4 linked regions of the Homo sapiens genome follow. The protein of the gene in region 1 interacts with the protein of each later gene in a pairwise test. Each region holds a gene or a part of one and is shown on either strand. Other genes may lie near its edges. The genes, in order: PPP1R12C, SPECC1L, EHHADH and THOC1.

Region 1 (7,032 bases):
GTGACAGTGTGAGACTCCGTCTCAAAACAAAACCAAACCAAAACAAAACAAAAAAACATTTGTTGCAGAGTAGAGGTATATGTTTATTTGATGATACTCATTCGATGCTTATTTTTGAGCCCCTGCTGTGTGCCAGGCAGTCTGTTAGGTGCCAGGGAAATGGGTAAACAAGACAGATCTGGGCCTGTGTGCGGCTCATAGCCTCGTGGGGAGACAGACATTTTGGGCTGATCGCTCTTGCTGCGGGGCCGTCCCATGCATCACAGGATGTGGGGCAGCCTCCCTGGCCTCCACCTATGGGATGTTGGGAGCATCCCTGGTTGTGAGAACCAAAAATGTCTCTGGACGTGGCCAAATGTCCCCTGGGGGGCAGCATTGCCCCAGTTGAGAACTGCTGGCTTAAGATATAAATAGGGTTATGGGAGAAGACAAGTGTGATGAGGAGGGGCTTTGGGGTCAGGAGACAGGGGGATGAGGGGGTGGTGACTGCCAAAAAGGGGCTCAGCGTGAGATGCTGCAGGGCACAGAACACTGCCCGGCTGAGAGCAGCAAGTGCAGAGGCCAGCGGCGAGCGGACGCTTGGGGAAATAGCGAGGGCCCAGCACAGCTGGGGCAGGGTGAGCTCCGGGCAAAGCGTGGGAAAGGTGAAGGGCAAGGTGGGCGGGACCAGAGAGAGGGACTTGTGCTTATAAGGCCTCTTTGTAGAATATCCCAGGCTGTCCATCTGTTCCCACTTTGTGAAGCTCTTTCTCATTGACACAGAAACTCATTCCAGTTCTCCAAAAATAGACACGTCCTACCGTTAAGCTGAGCTTGGAGAGTGGCCTTGGACTTGTAACCCTGCCTTTGCCCTCAGATTGAATGGTTTAAGGTGGTTATTGTTTTCTCGCAGAACACTGTCTCGGGTGAGGGTTTCTCAGCCTGGGCGCTGGCAGCATGTTGGGTCAGGTCCCTCTCCTTGTGGGGCTGCTGCTGAGCGCTCTGAGCGCAGCCGGGTGTGGAGCAGCCTCCCTGGCCTCCACCCAGCCGATGCCGCTAACCCTTGCCCTAAGTTATGACAACAAAGATGTCTGCAGACCTGCCGGGTCTCCCCTGGGGGACAGCATTGCCCTGGTTGGGAGTCACTGCTTTAAGCCAGCCCGGGTCCTAGAGCACTACTGCCCTGAGACAGCCCTTTGGGGGTCCCATCCTTCTGACAGGCATGGGGGCTGGCAAGGGTCCTGCACTTGCATCCTCCGGAGCTGCCTCCTTACACCCCGCTGCTGCCACCTTGGAATCCCACAGCCAGGGTGACCCCCTGCCAGCACCAGGAGCAGGTTCCAGAGGCCACCTGCAGGGTCAGGGTTTAACATGTAACTGCTGGTCCAAGGGGAGGGACAAGGCCTGGTGCAGAGGGGCCTCTTGTGGCAGCGGATGCTGGGCAGTGGCTCTTTACCAGCCTGTCCAGGGACGTTTCAGTCTCGTGGCCTGGGACCTCGTTACCAAACCGCTGGCCGAAATCAGCCCTCGGCCAAGGGCCCCGCCTTGGCCTCTGACCCTGAGCCTCCCTGGCCCCCAGGTTGCTCCTTCAGGCTGGCTACGACCCAGAGCTCCGGGACGGGGACGGCTGGACTCCCCTGCACGCAGCGGCACACTGGGGCGTGGAGGATGCCTGCCGCCTGCTGGCCGAGCATGGCGGGGGCATGGACTCACTGACCCATGCGGTGAGGGCCAGTGCCCAGGCTGGTGAGGGGCAGGGCGTGGGGAGGGCCCAGCACCTCCTTCATTGTCTGATCCTGCTCCTCCCCTGACCCAGGGGCAGCGTCCCTGTGACCTGGCCGATGAGGAAGTACTGAGCCTGTTGGAGGAACTGGCCCGGAAACAGGAGGACGTGAGTGTCAGGGCTGAGGGGCTTACCCCAGACTCCCCATGTCCCCTCAGCTCCTCAGAGGAGGGTGCAGAGGGGGAACCCCCCCGACTTCTGACACCCACCACCCCAGCGACCTGCTATTTCCCTCTTGGTGACCCAGCCCCAGCCCCAGCCTCAGGAGAGACCCCCAGCCGGGGCAGGACAGAGATGGGGCTGCAGAGCTTCCTGCCTGCCTGGTGGTGGGGGCGGCAGAAGGATTTGGACAGGGTTGTCTGACACCCTGATGAGGTTGCTTAGCACACCTCATCACCTCAGGGTGGCCCTTGGCAGCAGCCATGTGCAGGATTGTCCTAGACTCAGGCTGGGCTGGTCACCCACAAGGTGTCCCCCAGCCATCCCCGGGGCAGCCTTGCTGGGAAAACTTAGAGTGAAGGAGTGAAGGGCGTGAGCCTTGGCCAGACTGCCTGGGTTGGAATCCCGGCTCTGCCATGGATCTGCCGTGAGTCTCAGCCAGCCACTTTCCTTTCCGGGCCTCAGTTTCCTTATCTGTCAAATGGGAATGGTATGGTGCGCAACTGTATGAGGGGTCATGCGTGACACGTGGATTGTGCTGTCAGGAGCTCGGGGGAGTACGTGCCCCTGGAAAGCACTAGAGCCATGCCAGCGTTCAGTGAGCTCTGTGAGGTGACAGGAAGCTCCCAAGGCCAGGCCTAGGGCTTCTGGTGCGTGGGCAGGGGAGCGGAGACAGCTTCCTCTTTTGAAAGGTTGGCAGGAGCGAAGTGGAGGCTGATGGATGTAGGAGAAGATCTCACACAGGCTGGGGGGCAAGTGTGGGTGCCCTGAGGTGCCCAGGGAGGGGAGCGTAAGGCAGGGCAGACCCGGGAGGGCCACGAGTGCCAGGCGAGGAGCATGGTGGCTTCCATCCTGAGGGTGATACGGCCATGAGGGGTTTAATAGGTGGGGCAGGGTCAGCTCAGGGGGCCCAGATATGGGGGGAGACCAGCCTGGGAGCATCTGGGGACACTTTCTGGAAGACGTGAGTACTACAGCACTAAGAGTTTGCTAGAAGGGCAGGAATGAAGGGCCCTCCCAGTACAAAGGTGTGAAGACGGTGGTGAACTGCGCGGGGAAGGGGCGAAGACGGTGGTGAACTGCGGGGAAGGGGTGAAGACGGTGGTGAACTGCGCGGGGAAGGGGCGAAGACGGTGGTGAACTGCGCGGGGAAGGGGTGAAGACGGTGGTGAACTGCGTGGGGAAGGGGCGAAGACGGTGGTGAACTGCGAACTGTGCGGGGTAGGGGTGAAGACGGTGGTGAACTGCGCGGGGAAGGTGTGAAGACGGTGGTGAACTGCGCGGAGAAGGGGCGAAGACGGTGGTGAACTGCGGGGAAGGGGTGAAGACGGTGGTGAACTGCAGGGAAGGGGTGAAGACGGTGAACTGCGGGGAAGGGGCGAAGACGGTGGTGAACTGCAGGGAAGGGGTGAAGACGGTGGTGAACTGCGTGGGGAAGGGGTGAAGACGGTGGTGAACTGCGAACTGCGCGGGGTAGGGGTGAAGACGGTGGTGAACTGCGCGGGGAAGGTGTGAAGACGGTGGTGAACTGCGCGGAGAAGGGGTGAAGACGGTGGTGAACTGCAGGGAAGGGGTGAAGACGGTGGTGAACTGCGTGGGGAAGGGGTGAAGACGGTGGTGAACTGCGAACTGCGCGGGGTAGGGGTGAAGACGGTGGTGAACTGCGGGGAAGGGGTGAAGACGGTGGTGAACTGCGCGGAGAAGGGGCGAAGACGGTGGTGAACTGCGCGGGGAAGGGGCGAAGACGGTGGTGAACTGCGCGGGGAAGGGGCGAAGACAGTGGTGAACTGCAGGGAAGGGGCGAAGACGGTGGTGAACTGCGGGGAAGGGGCGAAGACGGTGGTGAACTGCGGGGAAGGGGCGAAGACGGTGGTGAACTGCGCGGGGAAGGGGCGAAGACGGTGGTGAACTGCGCGGGGAAGGGGTGAAGACGGTGGTGAACTGCGCGGGGAAGGGGCGAAGACGGTGGTGAACTGCGGGGAAGGTGTGAAGACGGTGGTGAACTGCGCGGGGAAGGAGGAGGCGAGTGCCGGCTGCAGGAGCCGGGGCAGCTGAGGGCCCACCAGTGCCCTGGGTATGCTGAGGGGTCGGGGTGAGGTCTAAGCAGGTCTCCCCTGGGAGCTAGAAGGACCCCTCTGGGGATGAGACTGGAGGCTTCTCATGGGTGGGGGCCGTGAGGACAAGACGGCAGTGCCTGCACGTGGCAGCTGCGGGCGCCTGCTGGACGCAGGGCACCTCCTGCCCCTGAGGTGTGTGGCCATCTGTAGGAAAACCAGTAAGCCCACGAGCCCTCGGTGCCCGCCTGGGCAGTGAGCTCCTGCACAGCTGTTTGTGGTGGTGTTGCTGTGGGGCACGTGTGCTCCACCCCTCCCCTGCAGCCCCCTTCCCTCCTTGCAGCTTCGGAACCAAAAAGAAGCTTCCCAGAGCCGGGGCCAGGAGCCCCAAGCGCCCTCTAGCAGCAAACACAGAAGGTATAGGGAGGGAGGAGTCCAGGGCTGGCGGGGTGGCTGGAGGCCCCGGGCTTGTACCCCAGCACCCTCTCCTTCCCCAACAGGAGCTCTGTGTGTCGTCTGAGCAGTCGCGAGAAGATTTCCCTCCAGGACTTGTCCAAGGAGCGCCGGCCTGGTGGGGCTGGGGGGCCCCCCATCCAGGACGAGGATGAGGGGGAAGAAGGTCCCACCGGTGAGGGGCCTGAATCTGGACTCCTGGGTCCGAGGGAGGAGGGGTCGGGTTCTCTGAATCTAGAGGCAACTGGCATCTTCTGTGACCTGCCCGGTGTTCCCACATCACAGAACCACCCCCTGCAGAACCCAGAACCCTCAATGGCGTCTCCTCCCCGCCGCACCCCAGCCCTAAGAGTCCCGTGGTGAGTGGATGCCCTGAGAGGTCCTGTGAGGCTGGGAGGGCCCGGAGGTGGGATTCCATACAGCCTGTGAACCTCTGGCAGGGGCAGATAGGGGGAAGACTATAGTTCCCAGAGTCGTCCTGGACAACCGGCTTCCTTTTTAGGCTGTGCCTGCCCCGGGGGCTGATGGGAATTGTAGTTTGTTGCAGTCCTTTGGGGGCTAACCCTTGAGGTCTGAGAAGAGGGATCCTTTCTCTCTAACTGAGACCTCCTCCTTCTCCCAGCAGCTTGAAGAGGCCCCCTTCTCCAGGCGCTTTGGCCTCCTGAAGACAGGGAGTTCTGGTGCCCTGGGTCCCCCTGAAAGGCGGACAGCGGAGGGAGCCCCTGGGGCTGGGCTGCAGCGCTCGGCTTCCTCCTCCTGGCTGGAAGGGACCTCCACTCAGGTGAGTGAGGGTTGGGCCGGGTCCAGGCCCAGGCCCCTGCCCAGTCGAGGGAACTGCCCCTTCCTCCCCTTCTCCTCTCCACACAGGCCAAGGAGCTCCGTCTTGCCAGAATTACCCCGACCCCCTCCCCGAAGCTGCCGGAGCCCTCTGTCCTGTGAGTCCCCAGGGCCTGGGCCCCTCAGGGGTGGGTGGCAGATGTGGGTTCCAAGCCTGTCCGTGTGATCCTGAGTGAGACCATGTACCCCCTGGGGTCTGGTTCCTGCCGCCACTCCAGAGCCTGTGCTGTGTTCCTCTTGGGGGCTCTCTCCCTCCCTCAGGTCTGTGTTGAAACGTCACCTTCTCCCCTATCTTCCCCCCACCCCGAGGTGCACACTGACCACCCTGCTGCCACCACGGCGCCGTCCGCACACGCACACCCTCCCGCTCTCAGTTCTCGCACTGCTGCTTCTGTCCAGAGTCCTTTATCCTTCTGACCGGTTGCGTAGTGTGCTGGTCTTTTCATGGCTTTTGTGGGTTTTGTGTATTTCTGCTCAGCTCTGACTCTGTTGTGGCCCAGATAATTTGTTTCTTTCACTCACGGCTGCATCTCCAGTGCCGGCACACAATGCACCTGGGTAATGTTTGTGGAATGAATGAATTGATGCAGGTCTGAGGTCACCAAGCCTCCTCCTTGCTTGGAGAACTCCTCGCCTCCCTCCAGGATTCCGGAGCCTGAATCCCCAGCGAAGCCAAACGTCCCCACAGCCTCCACGGCGCCCCCAGCGGACTCCCGGGACCGACGGAGGTGAAGAGGCCAGGGCAGGAAGCTGCCGCCCCCGCCCCCAGCAGGGAGAGACGATGTGAAGCAGGAGTCCCGGGGCTTTGGGTGGGCTCCTGAGGGAGAGCTGGCCTCAGGTCTGCTGGGAGTTGGAGTCCCCTCCCACAGAACTTGCTTCCCGCGGAGGGTGTCAGCCACGGAATGGGACAGGGTCCCCAGGTTCCCTGTCTGAGGTTGGGACCCTTCCCTCAGGTCCTACCAGATGCCTGTGCGGGATGAGGAGTCGGAATCCCAGAGAAAAGCTCGCTCCCGTCTCATGCGCCAGTCTCGGAGGTCCACACAGGTGTGGGGTGGGCTGGGGTCTGGACTCCTGGGTCTGAGGGAGGAGGGGCTGGGGCCTGGACTCCTGGGTCTGAGGGAGGAGGGGCTGGGGGCCTGGATTCCTGGGTCTGAGGGAGGAGGGGCTGGGGCCTGGACTCCTGGGTCTGAGGGAGGAGGGGCTGGAGGTCTGGACTCCTGGGTCTGAGGGAGGAGGGGCTGGGGCCTGGACTCCTGGGTCTGAGGGAGGAGGGGCTGGGGCCTGGGCTCCTGGGTCTGAGGGAGGAGGGGCTGGGGCCTGGACTCCTGGGTCTGAGGGAGGAGGGGCTGGAGGTCTGGACTCCTGGGTCTGAGGGAGGAGGGGCTGGGGCCTGGACTCCTGGGTCTGAGGGAGGAGGGGCTGGGGCCTGGGCTCCTGGGTCTGAGGGAGGAGGGGCTGGGGCCTGGACTCCTGGGTCTGAGGGAGGAGGGGCTGGGGTCTGGGCTCCTGGGTCTGAGGGAGGAGGGGCTGGAGGTCTGGACTCCTGGGTCTGAGGGAGGAGGGGCTGGGGCCTGGACTCCTGGGTCTGAGGGAGGAGGGGCTGGGGTCTGGGCTCCTGGGTCTGAGGGAGGAGGGGCTGGGGCCTGGGCTCCTGGGTCTGAGGGAGGAGGGGCTGGGGTCTGGGCTCCTGGGTCTGAGGGAGGAGGGGCTGGGGCCTGGGCTCCTGGGTCTGAGGGAGGAGGGGCTGGGGTCTGGGCTCCTGGGTCT
Region 2 (7,032 bases), on another chromosome or scaffold:
GGACAAAGAAAAAGCAGAGACTTTGGCTAGTAGCTTGCAGGAAGATCTGGCTCATACCCGAAATGATGCCAATCGATTACAGGATGCCATTGCTAAGGTATTGTTTAAATAGATTAAAATGTTCCGGACAGCATTAGGCAGCTGCCATGCACAGTGTTTACTGAGAACCTGGGTTACTGGTTTGGTTTGGTGTGTTATTAGCTTTTTTTTAAAACTGATATTTTTAAAACTTGGGAATGGTTTCCTTTTATTGGAATAGTGTGAAAAGTATTCTTAAGATAATGTCACTTTCTCTCACTTGTATTTTGTTTCTGTTTTCCTGCCTGTGAGAGGATATGGCTGGTATTACAGCTAAAACCAGAATTTGTCCCTAGTTCTGAGTATTCCTATGGAGCGGGTCATGAAATTTTACCTCCCCCCGCCTCATCTCGAATCTGTTTTGGTGTAATAGGTGGAGAGTCAGTATTCCAGTCTGTAGCATCAGCAGTGCATGTTTCCTCTTATCTTGCTATAGTAATAGTTTTTCAAATAGAGATCTGTTGATAGTTAAAAAATATTTTTGGCATATAGAGGCTCCTGTTTCTCAGAGGCCTGTGATTTATTGCTGGCAGGGACCTTAGCAATTATCAGTCCAGACCCTTGTTGTACATGCCTCCAGCATAATAGTGAGGACTCAGTTGGAACTGCTACCCAGGGCCACTGGCATTCTGGCCAGGGATCTATCTATACCCCATGTGGTTGCTGATGAACTGTTTATTTCCATGAGTTATTCTAGTTATACTAGTTATTCTAGCTTACATTTTATTTATTTGTTATTTTAGTGCAATGATTTTAAAATAAATTTTCATATATCTTTGGCTAAAATTTGAGTAATTTAGATTTTAGGGTGTTTTTAGTGATCACTTTTAAAGTTACAGTTTAGGAGATTTGTATTAGTTCTTGGCACATACATGTTGAGAGGCTACTGTGAACTAATACTTTTGTAAAAACACTATTTGAGAATTGTTTTCCCTTTTTCAGTTTGATACTGGAACCGTCACAAATATGACATCATTTTTGTTAGGACAACATGTTAATCATTAAACAAACGTACATGCTTTCAGTCCAAAGTTAGGAGAAACGAAAATTTCCAAAGTTTCCTTGTAAATAATCAGGTTAAGTTCAATGATACATCAATATAATTTCAGTCAGTGTTACAGCAACAGTTTAAGTGTATTAGATAAAATCTTACCATGGAGTGCTTTTTCATACTTTTTAACAGTTATTACACAGGTTGTTTTAGTTTATCCATAGTGCCTCATACTTAGCTCCCCTTGGAAACTGTGTGTACCTCAATTCTGGAACGTACCTTAGAACAACTCTTAACTTTTCTAAATCTGCATCGTCAATTTTACGTAGGTAGAGGATGAATACCGAGCCTTCCAAGAAGAAGCTAAGAAACAAATTGAAGATTTGAATATGACGTTAGAAAAATTAAGATCAGACCTGGATGAAAAAGAAACAGAAAGGAGTGACATGAAAGAAACCATCTTTGAACTTGAAGATGAAGTAGAACAACATCGTGCTGTGAAACTTCATGACAACCTCATTATTTCTGATCTAGAGAGTAAGTGATAAGAACTTTTCATTCTTTTTTGTCCTACTCTTTTAAACATGCGGGGATAATTTGCATTTAGTAATAAAATAGGGCTGGGCACGGTGGCTCATGCCTGTAATTCCAGCACTTTGGGAGTTCAAAACCGAACCAGGCTGGGCACAGTGGCTCACACCTGTAATCCCAGCACCTTGGGAGGCCAAGGCAGGCAGATCACTTGAGTTGAGGAGTTTGAGACCAGCCTGGCCAACATGGTAAAACCCCGTATCTACTAAAAATACAAAAATTAGCTGGGTGTGGTGCCAGGTGCCTGTAATCCCAGCTACTTGGAAGGCTGAGGTGGGAGGATCGCTTGAACCCAGGAGACGGAGGCTGCAGTGAGCTGAGATTGTGCCAGTGCAGTCAAGCCTGGGTGACAGAGTGAGACTTTATTTCAAAACAGAAAAGAAAAAGTCACAGATTGATCCTGTGTCCATGGTAACTGCCTGGCAATATCAGCATGATTGATGGAGATATAACCAGAGCGAGAATGGATTATTTTTTGTCAGAGAATAATGGGGTTCATAATCAATAATGGGACTCAAAAGTTATGAACCCATTATTAAATGAGTAGGGCAGTGCCCAGAGTTGTTCAGAACAAAGTTGGTCTAATAACATTGAGAACAGCAGTTTGCCTGATCTCTAGAATAAAAATAACATTGTAAAAATTGAGTTATAATTTGTAATTTAAAAATAGGAAGATCATAGTAGTAGTTCTTTTCCTTGGTCGACTTGAATGTTGCTTTTGAGTTGAAGACAGTAGATGGCAGTGTCCCTCACAGTAGGAACACTGAAGAGGAAGGAAACTGCTGTTAGAGGTTCGAGAGTTGAAGAGTAATGCTGCTTTCTTGTGTGACCACAAATCGTGCTAGATGGCAGTTTTGCAAACTAGTCTTCACAACAAGAACTTAAGCACAAATTCCTTTGTTTCCAGGAAAAAAAAATACATTCCATTTCAGAGTAAAAACGTAGTCATGACTGTAGAGATTGTAAAGTTTAAATCAAATCCCTACAGACACTTTTAGTGCATTTTATTCTGTCTGAGTATTTCCACTGGCTGCCACTTTCCCTTTTACTTAAATGGATTTATTTATTTATTTATTTATTTATTTATTTATTTATTTATAAGAGGTGACAGTAATAAAAATGTAGTGCCGGGGGCAGAAAAACACCTTTTAAAGAACAGTGATTATGTGAATTCTGTGGCCATGAATGAAAAAAGGTCAATAAAGAGAAAAAGAGCAAAGGAATGAATGCAACTTGAGAATTTATGATCAGTCTAAGATGACCAGGTAGCTTAAAATGTCACCTGAGAATCAAAATGCCAAATGTTAAAAGTGAGCTGTCCTGAGATTTGCTGTCATTTGTCATGTGTGTATTATGTTTAACAGTAAGTAGATGTGTCATGTCCTTTGTGACAAGAAAAAGAAAACAATTTTCAGCAAATTTCAAGAGAAATTACACTCCTAACATTTTTTGTTTGCTTGCCTGTTTTTTGCTGTTTGTTTGCTTTTTTGGGATGGAGTTTCATTCTTGGTGCCCAGGCTAGAGTGCAGTGGTACCATCTTGGCTCACTGCAACCTCTGCCCCCCGGGTTCAAGCGATTCTCCTGCTTCAGCCTCCTGTGTAGCTGGAATTACAGGCGCCCACTACCACACCCGGCTAATTTTTTATTTTTAGTAGAGACAGGGTTTCACCACGTTGGCCAGGCTGGTCTCGAACTCCTGACCTCAGGTGATCAGCAGATATTACAGGCCTGTGCCACCACGCCTGACCGCCTGTTTTGATTATGAAATATTTCTTGCATATAAATTGATACAATGTAAATGAAAGGTGTAACTCCCAGTGTTTTCAACATTAGAAATTTTTCAGCTTCTGTCCTTACTCCTCGTCTTATGTCCAAAACCCTGAATTTGTCTATGTGTGAGGTCGCAAGGAACCAAGTTCCCTTGCTGATTCCAGAGCCATCCTTGCCTCCAGAGATAAGGATCAGGGCATTAGACTCGTCTACTCAGCTTGGTGTCTGCTTTACCCAAACCAGATTAGATGGCCTGTTTGACTCTTCGTTTGCAGGTTGAGTCTGAAGTACCTTATGTGTGAGACAGGCTTTAAAGTTTAATCTTTTGCTTATGAAGTCATCTACCCTTGTTGTCTCAACACAAGACTAGCCTTTCTGTCTCTAAGAGGATGAAGATTATATCTTTCCTTTCCTTTACATCTTAAGCACTTAGAAAAAAGCCTGGTACAAAGTTGGTACATATGACACATTTATCAAATTAAAGAGTAAATTTTGAACCTTTTTATTTCACAGGACCTGACTTTGTTACACAGTTTTGGGGCAGTGAATGAGAGCAAGTTAACTACTGCCTACCAGAATTGCCCCTGCCGCCAACGTTTTATCCCATTTATTTCTGATCCAGCTTTAGAAAATACAGCATTATTATTTATTTGTAATAATTATTATTCCACATATAATTGTTGTAAATATTCTAGGCTCTATGTTGTTAAAGTGAATTCATGCCATTTAAAAATACCAGAACACTGGCTGGGTGCAGTGGCTCATGCTTGTAATCCTAGCACTTTGGGAGGCCGAGGCGGGTGGATCATGAGGTCAGGAGTTCAAGACCAGCCTGGCCAACATGGTGAAACCCCGTCTGTACTAAAAATACAAAAATTAGCTGGACGTGGTGGCAGGCGCCTATAATCCCATCTCCACAGGAGGCTGAGGCAGGAGAATCGCTTGAACCCAGGGGGCAGAGGTTGCAGTGAGCTGAAATCATGCCACTGCACTCCAGCCTGGGCAACAGATTGAGACTCCGTCTCAAAAAAAAAAAAAAAAAAAAAAAAACATCAGAACACACATATACCAACATCAAATGTAAAGCATAATGGCAAAAAAATTTTAGAAGAGAAGGTTCTAGTGGAACAGGGGTAAAGAAGATGATGAGCCATCTAAGAAAGAAAGAACATCAGCATACTCATACTTTAGGGTCCTAATTAAAAGCCAATAAAGTGTTAGCTAGAGGAAGAATTTTTTGATTACATGTGTCATTGCAAGCAGGTGTTCACTATGCCTGAATTCCTGCTACTAAGTATAAGGAATGGGAGAGAATGTTATTTACCCAGAAACACTAATGTCTATAGTTATGTTTTCCCTAATGATAAATCGTTAAGTTCTGTCAATAGGATACTTATTAAAAAAAAAACAAAAACCTAGGTAACGATTTCAGCATTACTTTTTATTACTGCTACCATTAGCTGGCACATTTATAAATTTATTCCATTTTAAAGATACCATATTCCAACTACTGAGTCTGTGAGGTCATCACATGGCTTCTTCTGCCTTTGAAGTGTTTTTAGTCTAGTGGTCGAGACAGATGTGTCGAGATGTGGTAATATTGGCGGCAACATGGTACAAGGCTGTGTAAGACACACTTGGAACACACACAACAGCCAGGGATCTACTGGGGTGGGGCTGTAGGTAAATCAGGGTAAAGGATTTGCCACCAGTTGTGTAAGTACCCTTTCTTGCCCTTAACCAAAAAGTGATTGGTTCCTGAGCTGTCAAAGTAACACAGCCGTAAGCGGTTTACTTAGTGGCAGCTATCAGCATAGCACCCTCCTAAGTCATTTATCTCTTATGCATGGATTTTAGAGTAGAACCTCCAAAGAGAAGGTGACTTCCCTTTACGTTTCTGGTTCCAGGGAGACTAGCCTGTGCTACACTTTCATCCTTGTATCCTCACTCTATCTAGAATGGTACTTTGCATCTTATTGGTGGTGCTCATTGAATGTTTTTAGAGTGAATGAAATTGTTCTAAGAAAATTCACATTATCGGATAAATAATTTGAGGAATTATTGATTTACTTTATAAATATATTCTTTATTTTTTAAAAAGATTTTTATAGAATTAATTGAAACAGCAGCTACCCTGAGTATTATATTTTTTACTAATTTTGATTTTACTAATTCACTTCTTTTCTGGAATTTATTCCAGTGTGTAAGGAAAGCTATGCTTATATAAATACTGCAGATTAATAATACTTGTGATTAAAAGTTCATATTGTAGTCACAGTCAATATTGTTTTGATTGGTTATGTACCAACAAAGTGAATTTCTAACGGTTTTACTTTTTGTTTCAAAATTAAGATACTGTGGAAGGAAGTGATTTAGAAATTGTGATTTTTAACTTGATATTTTCCAAAGAAAGTAATATTTGTTATTACTTGAATTTAACATTTTTTCTGTTAAAGTTTTGTATTAAAATTTTTTATAGTCTTTGGACAGGATAACTTTTTTCGAATGTCATATTTAAGTATCCCTTTTCTTTGTATTATTACTCTGAAGATTGTTGTGAGAATAGATATTTAAACTTTGGTGATCTTTTCAGATACAGTTAAAAAACTCCAGGACCAAAAGCACGACATGGAAAGAGAAATAAAGACACTCCACAGAAGACTTCGGGTAGGATAAATCTTCATGTATTGTCTTGTTAGAAAACGGTTTTCTGAAATCTGAGGTGTAGTCATTGACCATGTTATCATTCATCTTAAGTTTTGGATACAGTGATAATACTGGCCCCATTGGGCTTTGGGCAGAAAGCAAATGCTATCATTTCAAATTGGGATTGGTGCTAGATTTTGGGTAGAAGAATGTACTATAGGTTGAGTACCCCTAACCAGACATTCTGAAATCTAAAATATTCCAAAATTTGCAACTCTTGGAGTGATGGCATGATACTCAAAGGAAATGCTTATTGGAGCATTTTGGATTTCGGATTTTCAGATTTGGGATGCTTAGCTGTTAAGTATAGTGCAAATATTCCAAAATCCAAAGAATCTTAAATCTGAAATGCTTTTGGATAAGTGATACTCGACCTGTAGAAATTTATGGGTAGTAATTTTAGAAAGATAGATTTGGGGAAAAAGTGTAAGAAAGGTTATTAGCTTTTGGTTATAAGGTGCCCCAAACTAGTCTGTTTTCATACAAGTTTTCTTCATTTTGTGGCCATGATCCATCTTGCCAACAGCAATGCAGCCATGCTGCAGGGAGTAGGGAGAAAGCTACTCAGTCGTTTGGGTCATACCACAGTTGCTCAGGCTGCTTTCATGGTGTAAGAAAATTGCTTTAGGGGTGTAGGGGGCGTGGGGCTCAGGCATGCCCCAGCTATGGCTCTGATGGAGGTGAGTCCCAGGGAGACTTCCCCACCCGGCCACACCCGCATCCTCCATGACTGTGGGAAGCAACAGACCACGTAGTTCCTTACCGCCTCTTTGTATAATTTTGCCTGCCTATATTGAGTTTAGTGTTTTTCTTCTGGCTTCCTCTTCCTCTTCCTTTTCTTTTGATTTTTTTTTTTCCTGTTAGATTTTGATGTCAGGCTATTTATAGTTTTTCA
Region 3 (4,958 bases), on another chromosome or scaffold:
GTGTGAGGTAAGGGTCCAACTTCATTCTTTTGCATGTGGATATCCAGTTGTCCCAGCATCATTTGTTGAAAAGACTATACTTTCTCTGTTGAATGTTCTTGGCACTCTTGTTAAAAATCAATTGGCCATAATTGTGTGGGTTTGCTTTTGGCTATCAGTTCTATTCTGCTAATCTATATGTCTATCCTTTTGCAATGACCACTATCTTACACTGTCTTAAATACTATAGGCTTCTTTTTTTTTTTTTTTTTTTTTTTTTTTTGAGACAGGGTCTCACTCTGTCACATAGGCTGGAGTGCAGTAGTGTGATCATAGCTCACTGCAATCCTCAAACTCCTGGGCTCAAGATATCCTCCTGCTTCAGCTTCCCAAATAGCTGTGACTATAGGCATGCACCATCATGCCTGGCTAATTTTTGTTGTTGTTGTTGTTGTTGTTGTTGTTGTTGTTGTTACAGAGTTTCAATCTTGTTGCCCAGGCTGGAGTGCAATGGTGCGATCTTGGCTCACTGCAACCTCTGCCACCTGGGTTCAAGTGATTCTCCTGCCTCAGCCTCCCAAGTAGTGGGGATTACAGGCATGCACCACCACACCCAGCTGATTTTGTATTTTTAGTAGAGACGGGTTTTCTCCATGTTGGTCAGGCTGGTCTTGAAATCCTGACCTCAGGTGATCTGCCCACCTCGGCCTCCCAGAGTGCTGGGATTACAAGTGTGAGCCATTGCACCTGGCCCCCTGGCTAATTTTTAATTTTTTATAGAGTTGGAGTCTCACTGTGTTGCCTGGGCTGGTCTCAAACTCCTGGTTCCAAGTGATCCTCTCACCTTGGCCTCCCAAAGTGCTGGGATTACAGGCACGAGCCACCTCACCCAACCTTGAATAGTTTTGTCATACAATTTGAAATTGGGAAGAGTGAATCCTCCAACTTTGTTCTTTTTCAGTATTGTTTTGGCTCTTCTGGATTTCTTGCATTTCTATGTGAATTTTAGGATCAGCTTATTGATTCTGCAAAAAACCAGCTGGGATTTTTATAGGAATTGTGTTGGTTCTTCACATCAATTTGGGTAGTATTACCACCTTAACAATATTAAGTTGTCTGATACAAAAACATTTAATGTTTTTCCATTTATTTGGTCTTACTTAATTTCTATTAACAATGTTTTGTACTTTTTAGTGTACAAATCCTCCTATTCTTTGTTAAATTTCTTCCTGTGTATTATTCTTTTTGATGCTATTGTAAGTAGAATTGTTTCTTTTAATTTTATATTCAGATTGTTTATTTCTAATATATAGAAATATACTTGATTTTTGTATATCAATTGTGTACCTACAATCTCGTTGGACTCATTTATTAGTTTGTATAGCTTCTATTTGTGTGTGTGAATCTGACTAATTTTTATATCCTCTGAAACACTTAAGAGAGTGCAGAGTCTTAACTAGTACTCAATCCATTTGTGTTTCTTGACTCAATCTCTTTAAATGCCACATTGTCACATAAGCCTTCCATCCAGTGAATAATTTATCAGTTCCCAATACCACTGAATCATTCTTTTTCTCCTTTGATTTTTATCTGCAGGCTTGGGAACAATGGGCCGAGGCATTGTCATTTCTTTTGCAAGGGCCAGGATTCCTGTGATTGCTGTAGACTCGGACAAAAACCAGCTAGCAACTGCAAACAAGATGATAACCTCTGTCTTGGAAAAAGAAGCCTCCAAAATGCAACAGAGCGGCCACCCTTGGTCAGGACCAAAACCCAGGTTAACTTCATCTGTGAAGGAGCTTGGTGGTGTAGATTTAGTCATTGAAGCAGTATTTGAGGAAATGAGCCTGAAGAAGCAGGTCTTTGCTGAACTCTCAGCTGTGTGCAAACCAGAAGCATTTTTGTGCACTAATACTTCAGCCCTGGATGTTGATGAGATTGCTTCTTCCACTGATCGTCCTCACTTGGTCATTGGCACCCACTTCTTTTCGCCAGCTCATGTCATGAAGTTGTTAGAGGTTATTCCCAGCCAATACTCTTCCCCCACTACCATTGCCACTGTTATGAACTTATCAAAAAAGATTAAAAAGATTGGAGTCGTTGTAGGCAACTGTTTTGGATTTGTGGGGAATCGAATGTTGAATCCTTACTACAATCAGGCATATTTCTTGTTAGAAGAAGGCAGCAAACCAGAGGAGGTAGATCAGGTGCTGGAAGAGTTTGGTTTTAAAATGGGACCTTTTAGAGTGTCTGATCTTGCTGGGTTGGATGTGGGCTGGAAATCTAGAAAGGGGCAAGGTCTTACTGGACCTACATTGCTTCCAGGAACTCCTGCCCGAAAAAGGGGTAATAGGAGGTACTGCCCAATTCCTGATGTGCTCTGTGAATTAGGACGATTTGGCCAGAAGACAGGTAAGGGTTGGTATCAATATGACAAGCCATTGGGTAGGATTCACAAACCTGATCCCTGGCTTTCCAAATTCCTATCACGGTATAGAAAAACCCATCACATTGAACCACGTACCATTAGCCAGGATGAGATCCTTGAACGCTGCTTATATTCACTTATCAATGAAGCATTCCGTATCTTGGGAGAAGGGATAGCTGCTAGCCCAGAGCACATTGATGTTGTCTATTTACATGGATATGGATGGCCAAGGCACAAGGGCGGGCCCATGTTCTATGCTTCCACAGTTGGGTTGCCCACAGTTCTAGAGAAATTGCAGAAATATTACAGGCAGAACCCTGATATTCCCCAACTGGAGCCAAGTGACTATCTAAAAAAACTGGCTTCTCAGGGAAACCCTCCCCTGAAAGAATGGCAAAGCTTGGCAGGCTCCCCTAGCAGTAAATTGTGATTCAGTCTTCCAGATTATGCCTCACATGCTAGCATCAGGTAATGCTGACTGAATTTCAGTGAAATTAAATCAAAAATCCAAAGTAAGATTGTTCTGAAATACAAAGCAAAATAAATAATCATTAGAATCTTCTGTGTAACGACTCTAATGGTCAAATCTTTAGGAATGTGCTTCCTATGCCTCTGAATCTGTCCTTATCAGATAAATTCAATGCATGAACTTGTGTGAATATAATACCATAATAGCTAATGAAAGAGGCTCAGGCATAAGTTGAGATTCTCAAATGCTTTTATCATTGGATAAATGTGTCATCAATTAATAAATGATAAATGCAGCTAAGTCATACATTCATTTTGACTCCTTTCAATGTCACACACATAGTATTGATCAGAAATCTTATGAATCATACATACACTCAACAAACATTAAAGTTGTAGGAAAAAGACAGTTGGAAATTGGTAAGGGAACTGAGTACTTCAAACCAGCACAGGGAACTTAGGTTAGTGTGGCAAGCCTTTCCTCTTCTGGTCTTTCCTCTTCTGTTTATGGAGAAATAATAGAAAGTAGTAAGTCGTTAACTTAGTGTAAGAAGGGTCTTAGAGAACATCTAACCTTCTAGGATTTCCCAATTCTGTGATAGAGTAATGACACCAGTTTTCCTGTCATGACAAGCCTCTGTGATGTTACATATGGAAATGGTTGAATCTTGAAAAATCTAAAATTGTTGCAAAACATATTTTGTATGATTTTGTTGTAAGAGTTCTTCTCTTTTTACTTTTTGCCTTGTGTAGTTAAAAATTAAGGGGCTGGTCAATACAAAAACTTGTACACAAATATTTATAGCAGAATTATTCATAATGGCCAAAAGCTGAATACAACCCAAATGTCTATGAACTAATGAATAGATAAACCAAATCTGGTATATCCATACAATGGACTATATTATTCAGCCATAAAAAGAAATAAAGGGCCAGGCACAGTGGCTCACACCTGTAATCCCAGCACTTTGGGAGGCTGAGGCAGGAGGATTGTTTGAGGCCAGAAATTTGAGACCAGCCTGGGCAACATAGCAAAACCCTGTCTCTACAAAAAATACTTTCCGTACATTAGTGGTTGCCTAAGGCTAGAATTGGGGGTGATGAATGGGGAGTACAGGATTCATCTAATGGGTACAGGATTTCTTTATGGTTCATGAAAATGGTCTAAACTTATTGTGGTAATGGTCACATAACAATATATTAAAAACCATTGAGTTGTATATTTTAAGTGGGTGAATTATATGGTATGTGAATTATATCTCAATAAAGTTGTTAGTAAATAAATGGGGCTGAAGATGTTATCCTTCATTGTGGTGTAAATGAACTTTCACAATATTTTCACCTGTGAACCCAAATAAAATGATTAAAGTTCTGATGGAAAAATCTTGAATGGAGTATAAGTTTTCCGTTGTTAAAAAGCAAACAAAAAACCAACAAAAAATCCAAGTGTGCCTTGAATTGTACAGAGCACAATTATTATGTTTGAAATGTGTACTACTTAATTTTATATAATTTGGTTTGTGAAATTAAAGACATCAATAAAAATGATTCCTGAAAGTAGTAATTTTGTCTCCAAAGTGACTTGCTTTCAAATCAGTGTTAAAAAAAACCCACTAACTTTTTCTTCAAACCTGGAATTAATTTTGAGTTCTTACAACTTATTTTCACCCTACAGTGGCCTCTAGATTAAGGGGGTTTTTTTTGTTTTTTTGTTTTTGTTTTTGTTTTTTTCTGACTGGAGTCTTGCTCTGTCGCCCAGGCTGGAGTGCAGTGGCGCTATCTCAGCACGCTGAAAGCTCTGCCTCCCAGGTTCACACCATTCTCCTGCCTCAGCCTCCTGAGTAGCTGGGACTACAGGTGCCCGCCACCACGCCTGCCTAATTTTTTGTATGTTTCAGTAGAGACAGGGTTTCACCATGTTAGCCAGGATGATCTCAATCTCCTGACGTCATGATCCACCTGCCTCGGCCTCCCAAAGTGCTGGGATTACAGGCGTGAGCCACCACGCTTGGCCTAGATTGAGATTTTGAAACTAGAGGGTCTATGAATAGGTTTTATGAGTCAATAACCCCTGAAATGTTAT
Region 4 (7,032 bases), on another chromosome or scaffold:
AGGTCTTAGGAAGAACTAGAGGTGAAGGTGGGCTCTCTCACTTTCCTGTATAAGCAGTGATACATCCTGTAGTGGCGCAAAAGGTCTAGTCCAAGAATATTTAGCTTAGGAGCTGGGATTCCATTCCCTCATTTTCCTCTGGCATCCTCCTCATCAGTAAACTTACATAAATAACTGAGGGCTCTCCAACTTCGGTAGAGAAGTCTAACCATGAAAAATCTGAATTTGTTTACCAATAATGGGGCACCTGAATGAAAGGAAAAGTTTCAACAGTTTATTCTTGGTCAAGCAAAGGTTGGGTCCCCAAAAGCTAGATTCCCTTCTATTGGCCATAGTACAATGTCCCTTTCTCTCAGACAAGTCTGATTAAAAAATGATTCTTTCCTTTTCTTCAGACTTAGTCACTTTTCCATTGTGAGGCATTGGGCAAGTTCTTTTCCTTTTCTGTGCTTCAGTTTCTTTTGTGAGAGGGGAAATACCGTTCTTTCAGTGTTGTTGTGTGTAAAACAGCACTTAATGAACACTCAGTAAATGCTGGTTATTATGATTTTATAGAACCTAAGCACTGTCTTCCTTCTATTAAAACCACCCCTCAGACACATGGGTGTATTAGTAGTTAATTCTCATAGCCCTGCCTTTGCCCTGTGCCACTGGCTGAGTTATGGCTTCAGCACTTCTGTCCTTGATTAGCTTATAGCCTTCATCTTGCTAATATAACCATTTTCTTGAGACCATTGGATTTTGAGTGAGTTGCCTGTTACTTGACATACTTCTACGACTATTGATTCTATATGTTACTGTTAAATTTTGGTAACTTCATATTAGAAAATATTGTTTTCTATAAGAAATATTGTATTCCATATTTCTGATAGTCAATTTAATATCAGAGTACATGTTTTTACTGTTAATCGAGTTTAGTCTGAACTCTTGCCCCTAAATTAAATTGTTTCTCCTCTGTTGGTAGATAAATCATTCATCATGTGAAAACGTTTTAGCTATTATTTCTCTTGCTATTGGGGGAGTAACTGAAGGTAAGTATGGTTCCGTTTTGTTTTGTTTAAAGTAATCTTGGACATGACATGCTTTATTTAAAACGTCTTCTCCCCATACTTCTCCACCTATCTGATTTTGTTTATTCTTCAAGTTCTGCCTGACTCCCAACTTTGCCAAGAAGTCCCAGTTGAATTAGTTCACTCTTATTTCTCATCTCTATTATGCAGTGCACATTTTGGCACTTCCTTTGTTCTCCAGTTGTTTTGTTCATTCAGTAAATTTTCATTGAGCATCTACTATGTGCCTGGTACTGAGCTAGGACCTGGAGATTCAATGGTGAATAAAACATATTCCCCTGCTTATGTGGAGCTAATGGAAGAAACAGATGTATGCATGCCTTACTATGGTGTAAGTACTATGGTCGAAGTGGGAATGAAGTGTAGTTAGAGGGAATAGAGCCAACATGGCTCTCTAAACTTCAGTCTAAAGGAGTCAGGAGAGGTTTTAGAAAAGAACATGAGAACTAGAATGTGAGGTATGAAGAATTTGTTAGACATACTAAGAAAGGAATAGCTAGAGAATTGTGTACAGCAGGAGGAGGAGAGGACAATGAGAATGATGAGGAAAGAAGCAGGTTAGGTCCATTTATAAAGGGCACTGGGTGCCATACTAAAGAGCAGCTGCAGGCCGGGCGCGGTGGCTCACGCCTGTAATCCCAGCACTTTGGGAGGCTGAGACGGGCGGATCATGAGGTCAGGAGATCGAGACCATCCTGGCTAACACGATGAAACCCCGTCTCTACTAAAAATAAAAAAATTAGCCGGGCGCGGTGTCGGGCGCCTGTAGTCCCAGCTACTCAGGAGGCCGAGGCAGGAGAATGGTGTGAACCCGGGAGGCGGAGCTTGCAGTGAGCTGAGCTCGAGCCACTGCACTCCAGCCTGGGCAACAGAGCAAGACTCCATCTCAAAAAAAAAGAGCAGCTGCAGATGAATGATTCCATTTGAAGTGACTGCTGGCAGGAAAACTGGGCAGGAGCCTGTTAAAATGGCTGTGTGTGATAGCTTTAGAAGACTTCGGGTAAACAATGCACATAGTACACAGAGCCTAACACAAAATAGGAGCTCGTTAAATATATGCAGAAAGAAGAAATAAAAAATTAGTTTATCAGCATTCTTCTTTAACCAATTTGGTTAAAATACTCATTTGATTAATTCAAATAATATATGTGAAAACTCCTTTTTAATCTGTAAAGCATTATTCACATTATGTGTTATTTTGATGCTTCTATAAAAACTGGCACACACCTCCCAGTATAGGGGCAAACTATTTTATGAACTTAAGTTCATAAATTCACTTTGTTAAATGTTTATACAAGCTGCCTAATCATTCATTCATTAGGCATAGTTAGCTGAGTCCCACAATGTAATATTCCTTGTCTAGTTTCAGTCAAACAGTGTTCAGTGTGTCCTGAGTTCATTGATTACCTTTATACATTATTCTTGCACAGCTGGTGATGTTTTTAATGAAGAAGTTGTACAAAGTCTAGTCTATACTTGGAACTTTTGAGAAGGATAAGGACTTAAGAGCTTAAACTGTAAAGGCATAGTGCATTTTTATTTTAGGGATAATTTTTCTTTTTGAGACAGACTATAATTGGTTATGTGACATGTTTTTAAATTATCCATAAATATATTTTGTTAAATTCAATTTGGCCGATATTTATTGAGCTTCTATTCAGTGTGAGATGCTACTGGTTAAAGCATACAAAAATGCCTAACCTTAAAAAGCTCATAGTCTACATTCAAAGGTGACTAGTTAGGATGTGCTAAATGCTACAGTATATTTATGTAGAGTGTGCTTCAAAAGCATAGATGAAGTAGCCTGCTTCAGGATATCAGAGTTATTTAGATGAGCTGACATTCACTCTATGCTTAGAAAGATGGAGTTGAAATTTACCATGTGGTAAAGAGGAGGAAGAGTATGCAGAAAACAACATTGTGAACAAAACCATGGAAGGATGAACATGGCATGGTGTTTGGGAACTGGGGAGTGGGAACTAGAAAGGGATGTCTGTGGCCCAGGTAAGGGTAAGGAGAGAGATTGGTGTGGAAGCTGGGACACAGGTTGTGAAAGCTCTTGGGGGAATCACACTATAACCCAATGGTTCCCAGACTTGCTGGCTCATCAGAACCACCAGTGAATCTATTTTTAGATGAGATTCCCAAACCTTGCTTAGTTCTACTGACTCAGAATTTTGGCAGTAGAATCTAGAAAAAGTTCTATAATTATTAAATGTGAGTTAACTTATTCCAGGCTATACTGCAACTAAGGGCAGAAAATATGCTTCTCAAATCTCTTGGATGTGCAGGGTATATAATATCATTGAATCTAAGTATTGTTAGGGACTTTAGAGGTCACCTAGTCCAGTCTCATCTCTGGCCTAGACTGCTTCTCTGCTGTAACATCCCTGGTGGGTGGTCATTCAGCCTCTGCTGAATCATGCTCATTAGTGGAGCTCACTGTTTGAGTCCTGTTAGACAAATGTGGTTATTGGTGTGTTCCCTTGTATTGAGTTGAAATCTGCTGTTTTATTTCACCCACTGCTTCTAGGCAATATCCCTCACGTCGCATTCCAGATATGATCTTACTAGTGCAGAGTACAGCTGGAAATATTTCTTCCTTTTTTCTGGACATAGTATATTAATGCACTGTTTTGGGCTTAGATCACCCTAGATATTTTTCCTCCATATACCATGCCTAAGTGACTACTTTTCTTAAACACTTATGAGTGTTAGTAAGTACTCATTGCCTTAAAATAGAAGGAAGAATGAGTAGGGATATAAAAGTATTCTAAGTAGTCTAGATAGACTACGTAGACCTTTTCTTAAGAAAAATCTTAATTTTGTTGTTCTTTAAACAGTAACTTTCTACTTTTCCATTCTTTCCCCTGAAACAATACTGTTATTTTAAATGTTGAATCATAGTTAATATCAAACCTTGTTATTTTTTGAAGATAATCTTTTCAAATCACAAAGACAATTTAGCAACATTACAAAACATTTAGAAATAAGAAGGGAAAACAGTACTCTTAATTCCTCTACTTTTAAAAGCTACCATTCATCTGGTATAATGGTTTTAGTTTCTATAGTCTTTTAAGAATTTTTTTTATTGTCATAACCATATGTACATACAATTTTGAATCCTGCCTTTTTTCACTTAGCATTATATCATAAGCATTTTTCCAAGTTATTATAGTCGTTATAACCATCATTTTTAATTGGCTGCATTATATTCTTTTGAATAGCTTAGTGGTGAAGAAAACAGACTGTGGAGCCAGACTGCCTGGGTTCGTATCCCAGCTCTACCACTTACTGGCTCTATGATCTTGGTGAAGTTATTTAACCTCTCTGTGTCTCAGTTTTCCCATTCTATAAAATGCAAATAATGATATGCTCTACCTCATAGGATTGTAAGGATTAAATGTGTTAGTATATGTAAAGTACTTAGTGTGCCTGACATATAGTAAATGCTCTAGATCTTGTCAAGAATTATTGTCATCATTACTGAGTGCACATATCAAAAATTACTTAAGTATGTCCTATTTGGGGACTTTTAGGTTGCTTCCACTTCTTGTCCTTTTAAAACCTTGTTATGAGTAACAAAGTGTACCTTTTAAGATATTCTTCAGAATTATTTTTCATAGGCTATTCTACTCTACAGTTTTTTAAACTTTTAAATTGGCTTGTGCTCCACTTGAAGGTATTTGTACCGCATCTACACCTTTTGTATTGTTGGGAGATGTTTTGGATTGTCTTCCTTTGGATCAGTGTGACACAATATTCACTTTTGTGGAAAAAAATGTTGCTACTTGGAAATCAGTAAGTGCCTTAGTTTCTTTTCCTGCTAACTTTATCTTTCTATAGATCCAGAATTCTGAGGGTAGATTTTTTTTTTTAAATTTATTTGTAGTATTGCTGAATGCCAACAAGTTTCTGCCTATGAAAAAATTATATACTGCTCTCTCGGGAGAGCCAAATAAAAACCATGTGTGGAGAAAAACTTGAAATACAAAATTTGATTTAATTTGTGTAATAAAAATTAACTTGAAAATTCACACTTTCACATGTTTAAAACAGTTACTTAGTATCATGTTTTCTTATATCTGAAAATATTTTTATTTCATTGAAAATGTTATTTGCTTAAAAAAAGTGAAAGTGGCATAGTAGATTCTCAGTGCATGTTAGTGTTCTTTAATATTTCACTCTGGCAACTTATTATTGAAGAATGTGTAACAAGTTCTGAAGAAGAGTGATAATTTCCGTCTTAATTTCAGAATACATTCTATTCTGCTGGGAAAAATTACTTACTACGTATGTGCAATGGTAAGTAATTGAGTGATAAAATGATTGCTTTTTAAGTGTAAATATGCCCAGAAAAACACATGGTTGAATTAAATACCAGTGATAACATTTTAAAGATAGATTAGGTATCTGCATTTTTAACTAACAATCTGATTTGTTAGAACTCATTATTCACTTTAAACTGTTTTTGTTCTGGGCATAAGCTTAAAGTCAGAAACGTAGTAAAGTTTGTCTTTTTCATGTCATGTTGAACTTGTTTTGTTCCTAATTTATAGTACTTTTTTGTGGCAGTGGTTTCGGCCCCCAATTTAAGAACTACTGCTTTAGGAAAATACTCTTGACACACTGGTTTAGAAACTTTTAGGTGTGGTTGTAATAAACATAGAATTATCTTTTCTGTGTAACGTTCATTTTCATATATTGTTAGATCTCCTAAGAAGATTGTCTAAATCCCAGAATACAGTCTTCTGTGGACGGATTCAGCTCTTTTTGGCCAGGCTTTTCCCTCTGTCTGAGAAATCAGGTAAGCTTTTATGCATTAAATGAGTTTTCTGCAGGAAAATCTTTTCCAGTTTTTAATAGATTAAAATCTGTCATGATAATGAGAAAAATGGTTCTAAAAAGTTGAAAGACATCATAGAAATTGTCACTTTATTTTCTTTTACTTATAAATGTATAGCAGTCCTAGTATATAATACAGGTAATCCTGAAACAAAGTCATGGATTCTTTTAAGTTCAAAGCTTATTAATGTAAAGTTGAATCACACTGAAACATGTAGATATGAACCATCATATCCGTATTTCATAATGTATGCCTATTTTTGTGTTTGGATTTTCTCTCAGTCACAACTATTTAGCTATATAGACTTCCTTTCATTTCTCTTTTTTTAACAAATTTTTATTGTGAAATATAACGCTCATATAGAAAAGTACATAAAGCGAATAATAATGAAACAAATACTGTATAACCACTATCTAGCTCCTGAAATGGGACATTGCTTGTCCTCCAGAGCCTTCCGCCTCCCCAGTATGTTCAAATATGCGAGATTTTAATATCTCCTTGCTTCAGTCCTCCCTTCCTTAATATTGGGCTAATGTACCACCTACTTTATATGTTCTGAGGATTAAATGAATTAAAACATGTGAAGAGCTTACATTAGTGCCTGCATGTAGAAAGACCTATAGCATATGTTAGCAGTGGTTTATGTGCTTTCTTTTTGTCATCTTATGTCTGTGCTGTTTTCTTTCATACTTATTTTATGTGGTCAGGGTTAATATAGATTTACCACTTCTTGTATTTCTGGCTTTCTGTCTGTGATCATTTTCCCTTTTAGACTTTTCTTCAGTGCAGGTCTGTGTTTTGCCTAAAAATCGTTACTTCTCCTTTATTTTTTTTCCTTTCTTTCTTCCAAACTCCTGTTAATATTGGTATTTTGACCTCCTCCCAATAGGTATAAGATTCTAGATTGGCACTAGATACAGGATTTCATCTCACGGGAAATAATCTTTACTTTGTCTTCTGTTTCCCATTTTTCTATTGACAAGTCAGATGTCAGTCTCACTTCTTGAAGATAATCTACATTTTTTTCTCTGCGCTTAAGATTTTTTTTCTCCTTTGGTTTTCTTTTAGTTTTACTATGATGTATCTCTGTGTAAATTTCTTTTTATTTGTCCTGCT

The links.
Region 2: the proteins of PPP1R12C (region 1) and SPECC1L interact in binary tests that used the Homo sapiens proteins (3 or more experiments, as listed by UniProt).
Region 3: the proteins of PPP1R12C (region 1) and EHHADH interact in binary tests that used the Homo sapiens proteins (3 or more experiments, as listed by UniProt).
Region 4: the proteins of PPP1R12C (region 1) and THOC1 interact in binary tests that used the Homo sapiens proteins (3 or more experiments, as listed by UniProt).

What each region holds. Positions count from the first base shown.
Region 1 is NC_000019.10:55,093,622-55,100,653, reverse strand, and holds part of PPP1R12C (protein phosphatase 1 regulatory subunit 12C), read left to right. Parts: intron 1-1,558; coding exon 1,559-1,703; intron 1,704-1,795; coding exon 1,796-1,870; intron 1,871-4,318; coding exon 4,319-4,392; intron 4,393-4,475; coding exon 4,476-4,603; intron 4,604-4,713; coding exon 4,714-4,787; intron 4,788-5,050; coding exon 5,051-5,209; intron 5,210-5,295; coding exon 5,296-5,363; intron 5,364-5,855; coding exon 5,856-5,993; intron 5,994-6,218; coding exon 6,219-6,309; intron 6,310-7,032. UniProt on the Homo sapiens protein: Regulates myosin phosphatase activity.
Region 2 is NC_000022.11:24,322,822-24,329,853, forward strand, and holds part of SPECC1L (cytospin-A), read left to right. Parts: coding exon 1-97; intron 98-1,398; coding exon 1,399-1,606; intron 1,607-6,024; coding exon 6,025-6,098; intron 6,099-7,032. UniProt on the Homo sapiens protein: Involved in cytokinesis and spindle organization. May play a role in actin cytoskeleton organization and microtubule stabilization and hence required for proper cell adhesion and migration.
Region 3 is NC_000003.12:185,190,105-185,195,062, reverse strand, and holds the end of EHHADH (peroxisomal bifunctional enzyme), read left to right. Parts: intron 1-1,575; coding exon 1,576-2,837; 3' UTR 2,838-4,439; downstream 4,440-4,958. UniProt on the Homo sapiens protein: Peroxisomal trifunctional enzyme possessing 2-enoyl-CoA hydratase, 3-hydroxyacyl-CoA dehydrogenase, and delta 3, delta 2-enoyl-CoA isomerase activities. Catalyzes two of the four reactions of the long chain fatty acids peroxisomal beta-oxidation pathway.
Region 4 is NC_000018.10:258,025-265,056, reverse strand, and holds part of THOC1 (THO complex subunit 1), read left to right. Parts: intron 1-964; coding exon 965-1,031; intron 1,032-3,936; exon of another isoform or gene 3,937-4,339; intron 4,340-4,752; coding exon 4,753-4,871; intron 4,872-5,326; coding exon 5,327-5,375; intron 5,376-5,781; coding exon 5,782-5,877; intron 5,878-7,032. UniProt on the Homo sapiens protein: Component of the THO subcomplex of the TREX complex which is thought to couple mRNA transcription, processing and nuclear export, and which specifically associates with spliced mRNA and not with unspliced pre-mRNA.